Homo sapiens: one gene and its partners. The protein of the gene in region 2 interacts with the protein of the main gene of each other region in a pairwise test. Each region holds a gene or a part of one and is shown on either strand. Other genes may lie near its edges. The genes, in order: PPIG, LGALS3 and CRX.

Region 1 (3,654 bases), on a different chromosome or scaffold from region 2:
GTTTTCCAATTTTTCTTCAATTTCGTAATCAGGAAACAATTATTTTTAAAAAAGTACTAATAAAATGCGTTTTTTTTTTTTTGCCTATCAACAGCAAAGATCTTTTAAAAGAATAACTCTCAACACATGTACAAATGGAAACAGGAATTTATACTACTACTAGTGATCATATACAACTCCTTTGAAATTTAAGAATATGAGAAATTCATAAGTGTTTATACTTTGAACCAGTAAAATTCAACTGTTGGAAATCTATTATGAGGAACTACTCTAAATTCAGAAAGCCTTCAGGTATAAAGTTGGCTACGCTGGTGCTCTTTTTAGCAACATATAATCAAAAGCAACCTATCATAATATCACAAAAAAGTGAAATTGTCTCTGGTTCAACAATAATTAAAGCAATGCTTATGAAGATTAATAATTTGGAAAAATAATCAAGATATAAAACAGTGGGCCGGGCGTGGTGGCTCACACCTGTAATCGCAGCACTTTGGGAGCCCGAGGCAGGCAGATCACAAGGTCAGGAGATCGAGATCATCCTGGCTAACATGGTGAAACCCCGTCTCTACTAAAAATACAAAAAAAAAAAAAAATTAGCCGGGCATGGTGGCGGGCGCCTGTAGTCCCACCTGGAGGCTGAGGCAGGAGAATGGCGTGAACCTGGGAGGTGAAGCTTGCAGTGAGCCGAGATCACGCCACTGCACTCCAACCTGGGTGACAGAATGAGACTCCGTCTCAAAAAAAAAAAAAAAAAAAGATATAAAGCAGCATATGCAACATAATGATGATTGTGTAAACTACTCCCGACCTTCAAGCTCAGGCAAAGACTTACAAGAAGACAAAAAAAGAGTGAAAGGAAATAAATCATTATTGTGTGTGTCTGTAAGACTGGAGAGGGCTTTTGCCTCACTACTTCTTTCTAGTTTTCTTTAATAAATGTACTGCTACTTTGGGAGGCCAAGGCGGGTAGATCACCTGAGGTCAGGAGTTCATGACCAGCCTGACCAATGTGGTGAAACCCCATCTCTACTAAAAATACAAAAAAATAGCCGGGCATGGTGGTGGGTGTCTGTAATTCCAGTTACTTGGGAGGCTGAGGCAGGAGAATCACTTGAGCCCAGGAGGCAGAGGTTGCAGTGAGCTGAGATTGTGCCATTGCACTCCACCCTGGACGACAAGAGCAAGACTCTGTCTCAAAATAAATAAATAAATAAATAAAATAAATAATAAATGTACTGCTATTATAAAGAAAAAATTCCTAAGATATATATATATATATACACACACAGTCTTCTAACATTATAATGTACATGTGTGGAAATGGCTATAAGATGTATTCAGAGTCTATCACTCAAGGATACACTCTTCATAGAAATTGATTAGTTTTCCTGAAATGACAAATCACATATGCCTCAAATGCAAGAAAGATGAAAGGCAGCAAATTACTATTAAAATTACTACACAAATCCCTTGAATATGTAAATGTTTTAATATTAGCAGCTAATGAAAAACAATGGTGACAACAAAAGATGGCTCACATGCTGTGTCGCTAACATTACTGAAATGCTACTAATTACTAATCATTATAAAAAGTTACTAATTACTAATCAGAAACAGTATATCCTATTTCCTCTATAATTATGATTTCCTCGATTATTAAATAATACCTGAAATCACGGTGGTTCACACCCGTAATCCCAGCACTTTGAGGGGCGAAGGGAGGAGGATCACTTGAGCCCAGGAGTTCAAGACCAGCCTGGTCAACATAATGAGAACGCATCTCTATTAGAAAAAAGAAATCTGAGCCAGGCACGGTGGCTCACGCCTATAATCCCAGCACTCTGGGAGGCCGAGGCGTGCGGATCACAAGGCCAGGAGATTGAGACCATCCTGGCTAACATGGTGAAACCCCGTCTCCCCTAAAAATACAAAAAATTAGTTGGGCGTGGTGGTGGGCGCCTGTAGTCCCAGCTACTCTGGAGGCTGAGGCAGGAGAATGGCGTGAACCCGGGAGGCGGAGCTTGCAGTGAGCAGAGTTCGCGCCACTGCACTCCAGCCTGGGTGACAGAGCGAGACTCCATCTCAAAAAAAAAAAAAAAAAAAGAAAAAAGACATCTGAAACCAGATGCAGTAAGACAAACATCTGGTCAATTTTTCATTTTTTTTCAAGTAAAAGTAAAGAGAAAAAATAATGCTAGGAGATACCAAAAACATGATTCAGGGGAAAATTAAGCCCTTACAATTTTAAATAAAATATCCATGACCAGCCTGGGCAACAGCAAGACCCCATCTCTATTAAAAAAAAAATGACAATTAGCTGGGTGTGATGACCCAGGCCTGTGGTCCCAGCTACTTGGGAGGCTGCGGTGGGAGGATCATTTGAGCCCAGGAAGTTGAGGTTGCAGCGAGCAGTCATCATGCCACTACACTCCAGCCTGGCCAACAGAGTGAGACTCTGTTCAAAAAAAAAAAAAAAAAAAAAAAAATCATGAATTGCCTAAAAATACTAGAATATAATCAAAATTTTCAGTGTAGTAGTAATCTGTGGGTGATTTGTTTGCTGCAAATTTGTTTAGTATGAACTACAGCTAAAATCCAGACAAATTTTTCTTGGAAAAAAAAAAATCACAATATGTGGCACTGTGCCCCATTTCTACACAGCAATCAGCATAGTCTGCTCCCAACAGATGACATATATATGTTCTAGTTTGACCTAATTCTAGCTATTGCTTATTAGCTGTTAAAATTTATTGTCTACTTGACCTCATGTACTTACCTCACCTGCTTGACTCCTTCAGAAATTTAAGTATAATATACTGAATCTACTTTTTTCATCATAATGAAAACACATTTTTAATAAGATAAGCAATAAAGCTAATAAGCTCACTGAAAAAAATTAATCATACAAAATGCACAAAATTCTAAAACTTAGCTATAGCTTTTAATACTTTTATTATATTCTTGTTTTTCCTATGCAGGTGATTAAAGTTATTTTTAATATTTATCAACAATATAGTCACTTTTGTATTTCAATAATAAGGTAATACAATTTAAAAATATCACAGTGCTATCATTTATAAACTTCTGCAACAAACACATTTCATAAAAAAATCAGTAAGAGGTAACCAGTTCATGTGTAAAAAAATTTATCCTTGTAGTTTCATACATAAACTATTTTCCATATTAATCCTAAAATAACATGACTAAATGAAAAACAGGACAAAAATATAGGCAACTAATTATTAAAATATATAGTAGCGGACATGGCATTTATAAGTAGGCATATGGTAACTTTATTATATTTTAAAGTTATTTGGAAGTTTCACACATTATGAGGAAGTCAGCATAGCACCGAGTTTCTAATCTAGAAAAAATACAAAGTAAATTATTTCTATTTTTAGAGACAGGGTCTCGCTATGCCGCTCAGGCTGGAGCACAGTGGTAAGATCACAGCTCACCGCAGCCTGGAACGCAGTGGCTCAAGCAATCCTCCTACCTCAGCCTCCCGAGTAGCTGGGACTAAAGGCGTGAGCCACCACCTCCAGCTAATTTTTAAAAATTTTTTTGTGGATATATTGCCTAGTCTGAGTAAATTATTTTTAACGATTAAGATGCCAAGCAAGTCTCTGACCCTTAGGATTCTCCTCACTGATT
Region 2 (3,490 bases):
ATTTGCTTTTTAGAAAATTACATGTTCTTTACACAGTGCAAATGTACAGCTTTAATCATTTTAATAACTGGTCTTTGGTTTAAAACAGAATTGCTTTAGATTTCCAAAGAGGGAATGATGTTGCCTTCCACTTTAACCCACGCTTCAATGAGAACAACAGGAGAGTCATTGTTTGCAATACAAAGCTGGATAATAACTGGGGAAGGGAAGAAAGACAGTCGGTTTTCCCATTTGAAAGTGGGAAACCATTCAAAGTAAGTTATTGCTACTATTATATATTGATAATGTATATTTCTCATGAGGAATCACTCTAAAACCCCAAAGCACTTGAAGTGAGAGTTTTTATCACCTCTCCTAAGGTGCCTAACCAGTTTATCTTCTCCCTGCCCAGGGGACCAGGCTCAGCAGGCTGAGAACATGGCCAGGAGTGGCACACTCCCCAGTTCCTTTCAGGCACCTCTCCATCATCACTGCTGCCACCCCTCTGAGTTTAAGCCTTTCTAGAAATGAAAAGAATATAATCTTTAACAAAAAAGGCAAAAAGTCTTTATGGTACAGTTATACTGCGACTTTGTTGCTTAAAACACAGTTGGCAGAGAGATGAAAACTAAAGGTTTTTTATTCTAAAATTAAAGTTTTATGAAAAGTTTATAAATTTTTAAATTAACAAAGTTTCCTATCTTTTACTCCTTCCCCCATCCTCACAAAGTTGCAATTCGATGAGTATCTTCCCAGTATTTTCTGACATACAGCACGCTTTTTATTTGTAAGCACTGCTTCAACAAATTAGATCCACAGCATTTAGGGTTGACTATAGAGTGGTGAATAAAACAGCTGGAGTGTAAACTCTTCAACAACAGGGACAAATAAGGACCACAGTCTACATTTGGTGGATATCTTTTCGTATCAGAATATTGTTACTTAATAGCACTTTTTTTTTTTTTCGAGACAGAGTCTCGCTCTGTCGCCAGGCTGGAGTACAGTGGCACGATCTTGGCTCACTACAACCTCCGCCTCCTGGGTTCAAGCGATGCTCCTGCCTCAGCCTCCCAAGTAGCTGGGATTATAGGCGTGCGCTACCATGCCCAGCTAACTTTTGTATTTTCTGTAGAGACGGGGTTTCACCATGTTGGCCAGGATGGTCTTGATCTCTTGACCTCGTGATCCGCCCACCTCAGCTTCCCAAAGTGCTGGGAGGATTACAGGCATGAGCCACCATGCCTGGCCAGTAGTATTTCATTTTTAGATATGTGATAATTTAACCAGTACCCTACTGATGAAAATTTACAGAATAGAAACACTCCAACCTGGAAAGATTTTACTAAAATACTGTAATAACTATCCTTACAAATCTTTGCTTCCTAGAAGCAAGTCTTCTAGAAATCTTTGCTTCCTAGAAGCAAGTCTTCTAGAAATCTTTGCTTCCTAGAAGCAAGTCTTCTAGAAATCTTTGCTTTAAATATACATGTTTACAATTTAGATATTGTCAAATTGCTGCTTCCAAAAAGATATAGGAATGAACATCCACTATTGGGAAGAGTAGATTTCTCCTACCCTTGCCAAAACTGATTATCATCAATCCTTACAACATTTGCCAGAGGAATCCTATTTTCGTGTTTTTCTTTTAGGTGTTTTAGACCATATCAGAACTTTTGGTTGTTTTGAGACAGGGTCTCACACTGTCACTCAGGCTGGAGTACAGTGGCATGGTCACAGCTCATTGCAGCCTGTCAACCTCCCAGGCTCAAACGATCCTCCCACTTGAGCCTCCTTAGTAGCGGAGACCACAGATGTATGCCACCCACGTGTGGCTAATTTTTGTATTTTTCTTGTAGAGATGGGATTTCACCATGTTGCCTGGGCTGGTCTCAAACTCCTGGGCTCAAGATCCGCCCGCCTTTGCCTCCCAAAGTGTTGGGATTACAGGCGTGAGCCACCACACCCAGGCTCTTTTAAGTTTTTATGCAGGCAAATCTTTAGCCTCCACCTTTATGGCTTCACTTATGTATCCTTCTAATAAATTTGCTGCTTTAAAAAAAAAACCTGAATAACTTGGAATTTTTTTGTTGTTGCTTTTTGTTTTTTTGAGACGGAGTCTCACTCTTTCGCCCAGGCTGGAGTGCAGTGGCACTATCTCGGCTAACTTCAAGCTCCGCCTCCTGGGTTCATGCCATTCTCCTGCCTCAGCCTCCCAAGTAGCTGGGACTACAAGGTGCCCGCCACCACAATCAGCTAATTTTTTGTATTTTCAGTAGAGATGGGGTTTCACTGTGTTAGCCAGGATGGTCTCGATCTCCTGACCTTGTGATCCACCCGCCTCAGCCTCCCAAAGTGCTGGGATTACAGGCGTGAGCCACCCCGCCCAGCATAACTTGGCATTTTTGCTGTAAAGTTACTTTCTCTGGATCTTAACTGGTCCCACAAATGATAAGGATGAAATGTTGGACATCCTGGGCTCAGGCCAGACTGGTTTGAAATTAATGGACATTTTTTCCCTTTATTTCAGTTGACAAAAAATTGTTTCTATAGTGCAGATGAAATATGTATATATTGTGGAATGCCTAAATCCAGCTGACATATGCATTACCTCATGTAACAGTTTATGTATATGCCATTTCAGATACAAGTACTGGTTGAACCTGACCACTTCAAGGTTGCAGTGAATGATGCTCACTTGTTGCAGTACAATCATCGGGTTAAAAAACTCAATGAAATCAGCAAACTGGGAATTTCTGGTGACATAGACCTCACCAGTGCTTCATATACCATGATATAATCTGAAAGGGGCAGATTAAAAAAAAAAAAAGAATCTAAACCTTACATGTGTAAAGGTTTCATGTTCACTGTGAGTGAAAATTTTTACATTCATCAATATCCCTCTTGTAAGTCATCTACTTAATAAATATTACAGTGAATTACCTGTCTCAATATGTCATTTAATTGGAGTGGTTTATTCTAGATAATGCACAATGGAAAAAATATGTAGCAATATTAATACTGCATTGGGGCCTCAAGGTTTCCTATACTTGTTAAAATATTTTTCTTAAGGAGAAAGTAAATATTACCACAAAATTATCTCTTCCAGAATTTCATAAAAATCAGCTGTTTCAAGAAAATTATTCTCTCATTTTCTTAAGGAAATATAACATGTTCAGGAAATCAGAATAGCATTAAGAAAAAGTTAACCTATAGATGACCTATGACCCATAGACAATTATTGTTAGGATTCTGGTATATTTCTTGACGGCTTTTTAATCCTATTTTCTCCTTCTATAGTTCACTGCTTTCAAATCAGTAATTTGATACCAATATAGGACCATCTCCCTGGTTTTTATGAAATCTCTTATGGAGAAAAAGGTATCTTATATAGTCGGCTTTCAAAATTTAATTGTTCCCATCGTCAACATTCTTGCCCATGCCTTTCTACCCTTATTAGCAGCAAGCCCAAAGATTAATAAAATTCCAAAACTAGGATGTGGCAAAACCACTT
Region 3 (3,654 bases), on a different chromosome or scaffold from region 2:
TTAAAAATAAGGCTTTACAAAAATTGGCCGGGCATGGTGGTGTGCGCCTGTAATCCCAGCTACTTGGGAGGCTGAGGCAGGAGAATCACTTGAACCTGGGAGGCAAAAGTTGCAAAGAGCCAAGATCGCGCCATTGCACTCCAGCCTGGGCAGGAGCGAAACTCCGTCTAAACTGTGTCTCGAAAGAAAAAAAAAGAAAAAGAAATAAGGCTTTGCAGGCCAGGTGCAGTGGCTCATGCCTGTAATCCCAGCACTTTGGGAGGCTGAGTCAGGCGGATTATTTGGACCCAAGAGTTTGAGACCAGCCTGGGCAACATAGGGAGACCCAATCTCTACAAAAAAAAAAATAATAATAATTTTTTCTATGTTTTGTATAATCCAGATCCTGCAAAATCTACAAAAACTTAAAAAAGTTAGCCAGGCATGGTGGCGTGCACCTGTAATCCTAGCTATTTGGGAGGCCAAGGCAAAAGGATCGCTTGAGCCCAGGAGTTCGAGGCTGTAGTGAGCTGTGATTGCACCATTGCACTTCAGAGTGGGCAACAGAGTGAGACCCTGTCTCAAAAATAAAATTAAAAAAAAAAAGTGCCCCCCGGGCCTAGGCACAATGGCTCACACCTGCAGTCCCAGCTACTCAGGAGGCTGAGGTGGGAGGATTGCTTGAGCCCAGGAGTTCGAGGCTGCAGTGAGCCGTGACCACCACCACTGCACTCCAGCCTGGGTGACAGAGTGTGAGACCTTGTCTCTGAAAAATAAATAAATAATAAAGTTTTGGTAACAGATGAAAATTCCTCTTGATTCCCCTTCCAGATTACATCCCCTCTTCCTCACCCCAAAAGGAACCTCTGTCCTGAATTTCTAGGACTGCTAATGTTTTTCTAAGTGACATACATTTCAGATGAACCCAGAGGGCTGGTGTATGGCCCTGAAGTCGCCCCTGTGATTGCCTTCTTCCTGGGGGCAAAGGGACCCCAGAGGTCCTCCAAGAGATGAGGCCAGCCTGGGGTGCCAAGAGAAACGACTGTACTCACTTGGGTAGGGCACAGCCTGGTGCATCAGATCCACACTGGGGCCACTTAGGGCCAAGGCGTTGACAGAATAGTGGGGCCCCGGGTTCATATACGCCATCATGATCTTCGGGGACACTGAGGCCCAAGTCAGGGGGCCTGCAAGAGAAGAGGAGGGATGCTCACTCACTTACCAGTTACTCACCATGGGGTGACGTGCAGGCTGCGATTCAAATCCTGCCTCCTTCTCCTCTTAGGTATGTGACCTTGGCCATTTATCTCACCTCTCTGTACCTCTGTGTCCTCACATGTAAAATGGCCTCTGCTTAAGGTTCTCAGAGCTTTCTTGAGACTCTGCAAAGCAGACAGCTGAAGCCATCATGTGCCTCATAAGTGCAAGCTCTTATTCCTACTCTACCCTCTAAAAATCTCGTCCTGGCTAGGCACAATGGCTCACATCTGTCATCCCAGCACTTTGGGAGGCCAAGGCGGGAGGATCACTTGAGCCCAGGAGTTTGAGACCAGCCTGAGCAACATAGCAAGACCCTGTCTCTTAAAAAAAAAAAAAAAGTGTTCTTTAAAAAGTTAACTGGGTGTGGTGATGCATGCCTGTAATCCCAGCTACCCAGGAGGCTGAGGTGGGAGGATCACTTGAGCCCAGGAGTTTGGGGCTGCAGTGAGCTGTGTTCAGGCCATTGCACTCCAGCCTGGGTGACACAGCAAGACTCTAAGAAAAAAACAAAACAAATCTGATCCTGTTACACACCCTCATCCAAGATCCCTTCTTTCTTGACCATGGGCAAACACGCTCAGCCTCACTTATAACCCAGGACTGCAGGTTGACCAACCGTCCCTCTTTGCCCAGGTTGGAGGAGAGGTGGGTGTTTCTTGGAACACAGGACTTTCAGTGCTAGAGCCAGAATGGTCCCAGGCAAACTGGATTGGTTGGTCACCCTAAGGGAGAGTGGCATTAAACCAACAGTAAGGGCCAGGCAAGGTGGCTCACGCCTGTAATCCCAGCACTTTGGGAGGCTGAGATGGATGGATCACCTAAGGTCAGAAGTTCAAGACCAGCCTGGCCAACATGGTGAAACCCCATCTCTATTAAAAATACAAAAATTAGCCAGGTGTGGTGGCGGGTGCCTGTAATCCCAGCTACTTGGGAGGCTGAGGCAGGAGAATCACTGGAACCCGGGAGGCAGAGGTTGCAGTGAGCCAAGATCGCACCACCGCACTCCAGCCTGGGCGACAGAGCGAGACTCTGTCTCAAAAACAAAACAAAACAAAACAAAAAAACAAAAACAAAAACAAACAAAAAAACGACAGTAAGGGCTAAGCAAGGCGGCTCACACCTGTAATCCCAGCACTTTGGGAGGTCAAGGCAGGAGAATCACTTGAGCCCAGAAGTTCAAAACCAGCCTAGGCAACATAGTGAGACCCCCATCTCTGAAAAAAAGAAAAAGAAATAGTGAGACCCCCCATCTCTGAAAAAAGAAAAAGAAATAGACCCCTATCTCAAAAAAAAAAAAAAAAAAAAAGCGAGTGTGGATCTTCCATGATCACTTTTGACCTATCAGGTTGGCAAAGATGAAGGAGGTTGATAACTTCCAGCACTGGTGTCAGTGTGGGGAAAGGCACACTCCCATGGCAGATAGGTAGCAGTACAGGTTGTAACAAACTGTTATTGAAGTAAAATGCCATCTTTCTTTTGTCCTAGTAATTCACCTTCAATGTATACCTCAGTCGCCTTGTTGGAAAATGGGAATGAAAATCGCATTTATGGGCCAGGCGCAGTGGCTCACACCTGTAATCCCAGCACTTTGGGAGACCAAGGCAGGCAGATCACTTGAGGTCAGGAGTTTGAGATTAGCCTGGTCAACATGGTGAAACCCCGTCTCTACTAAAAATACAAAAATTAGCTGGGCACAGGGGTGCACGCCTGTAGTCCCAGCTACTTGGGAGGCTGAGGCAGGAGAATCGCTTGAACCTGGGAGGCGGAGGCTGTAGTGAGCCAAAATGGTGCCACCACACCCCAGCCTGGGCTACGGACTCCGTCTCAAAAAAAAGAAAAGAAAAGAAAAAGAAAATAGCATTTATGTTCAGGTGGCAACATAGCGAAACTCTCCTGTCTCTACAAAAAATTAATTTTTTTTTTAAAGTAAGCCTGGGCGCAGTGGCTCATGCCTGTAATTTCAGCACTTTGGGAGGCCAAGGCAGGCAGATCACCAGAGGTCAGAAGTTCGAGACCAGCCTGGCCAACATGGTGAAACCCCGTCTCTGCAGAAAATACAAAAATTAGCCGGGCATGGTGGCGCGTGCCTGTAATCCCAGCTACTCGGGAGGCTGAGGCAGGAGAATCGCTTGAACCCGGGAGGCAGAAGTTGCAATGAGCCAAGATCAAGCCACTGCACTCCAGCTTGGGCGACAGAGCGAGACTCCGTCTCAAAAAAAAAAAAAAAAAACATAAGGCTGCTCTCTGAACTGATTTTAAAAGATCTCCATTATATAGTTTTAAAAAATTGTTCTAGGGGCCAGGTGTGGTGGCTCACATCTGCAATCCCAGCACTTTGGGAGGCCAAAGCAGGCGGATCACCTGAGGTCGGGAGTTCGAGACCAGCCTGGCCAACATGGTGAAACGTCTCAACTA

What was found.
Region 1: the proteins of LGALS3 (region 2) and PPIG interact in binary tests that used the Homo sapiens proteins (3 or more experiments, as listed by UniProt).
Region 3: the proteins of LGALS3 (region 2) and CRX interact in binary tests that used the Homo sapiens proteins (3 or more experiments, as listed by UniProt).

What each region holds. Positions count from the first base shown.
Region 1 is NC_000002.12:169,590,753-169,594,406, reverse strand, and holds part of PPIG (peptidyl-prolyl cis-trans isomerase G), read right to left. Parts: intron 1-3,654. UniProt on the Homo sapiens protein: PPIase that catalyzes the cis-trans isomerization of proline imidic peptide bonds in oligopeptides and may therefore assist protein folding. May be implicated in the folding, transport, and assembly of proteins.
Region 2 is NC_000014.9:55,142,496-55,145,985, forward strand, and holds the end of LGALS3 (galectin-3), read left to right. Parts: intron 1-88; coding exon 89-254; intron 255-2,620; coding exon 2,621-2,776; 3' UTR 2,777-2,928; downstream 2,929-3,490. UniProt on the Homo sapiens protein: Galactose-specific lectin which binds IgE. May mediate with the alpha-3, beta-1 integrin the stimulation by CSPG4 of endothelial cells migration.
Region 3 is NC_000019.10:47,831,921-47,835,574, reverse strand, and holds part of CRX (cone-rod homeobox protein), read right to left. Parts: intron 1,167-3,654; 5' UTR 1,132-1,166; coding exon 1,032-1,131; intron 1-1,031. UniProt on the Homo sapiens protein: Transcription factor that binds and transactivates the sequence 5'-TAATC[CA]-3' which is found upstream of several photoreceptor-specific genes, including the opsin genes.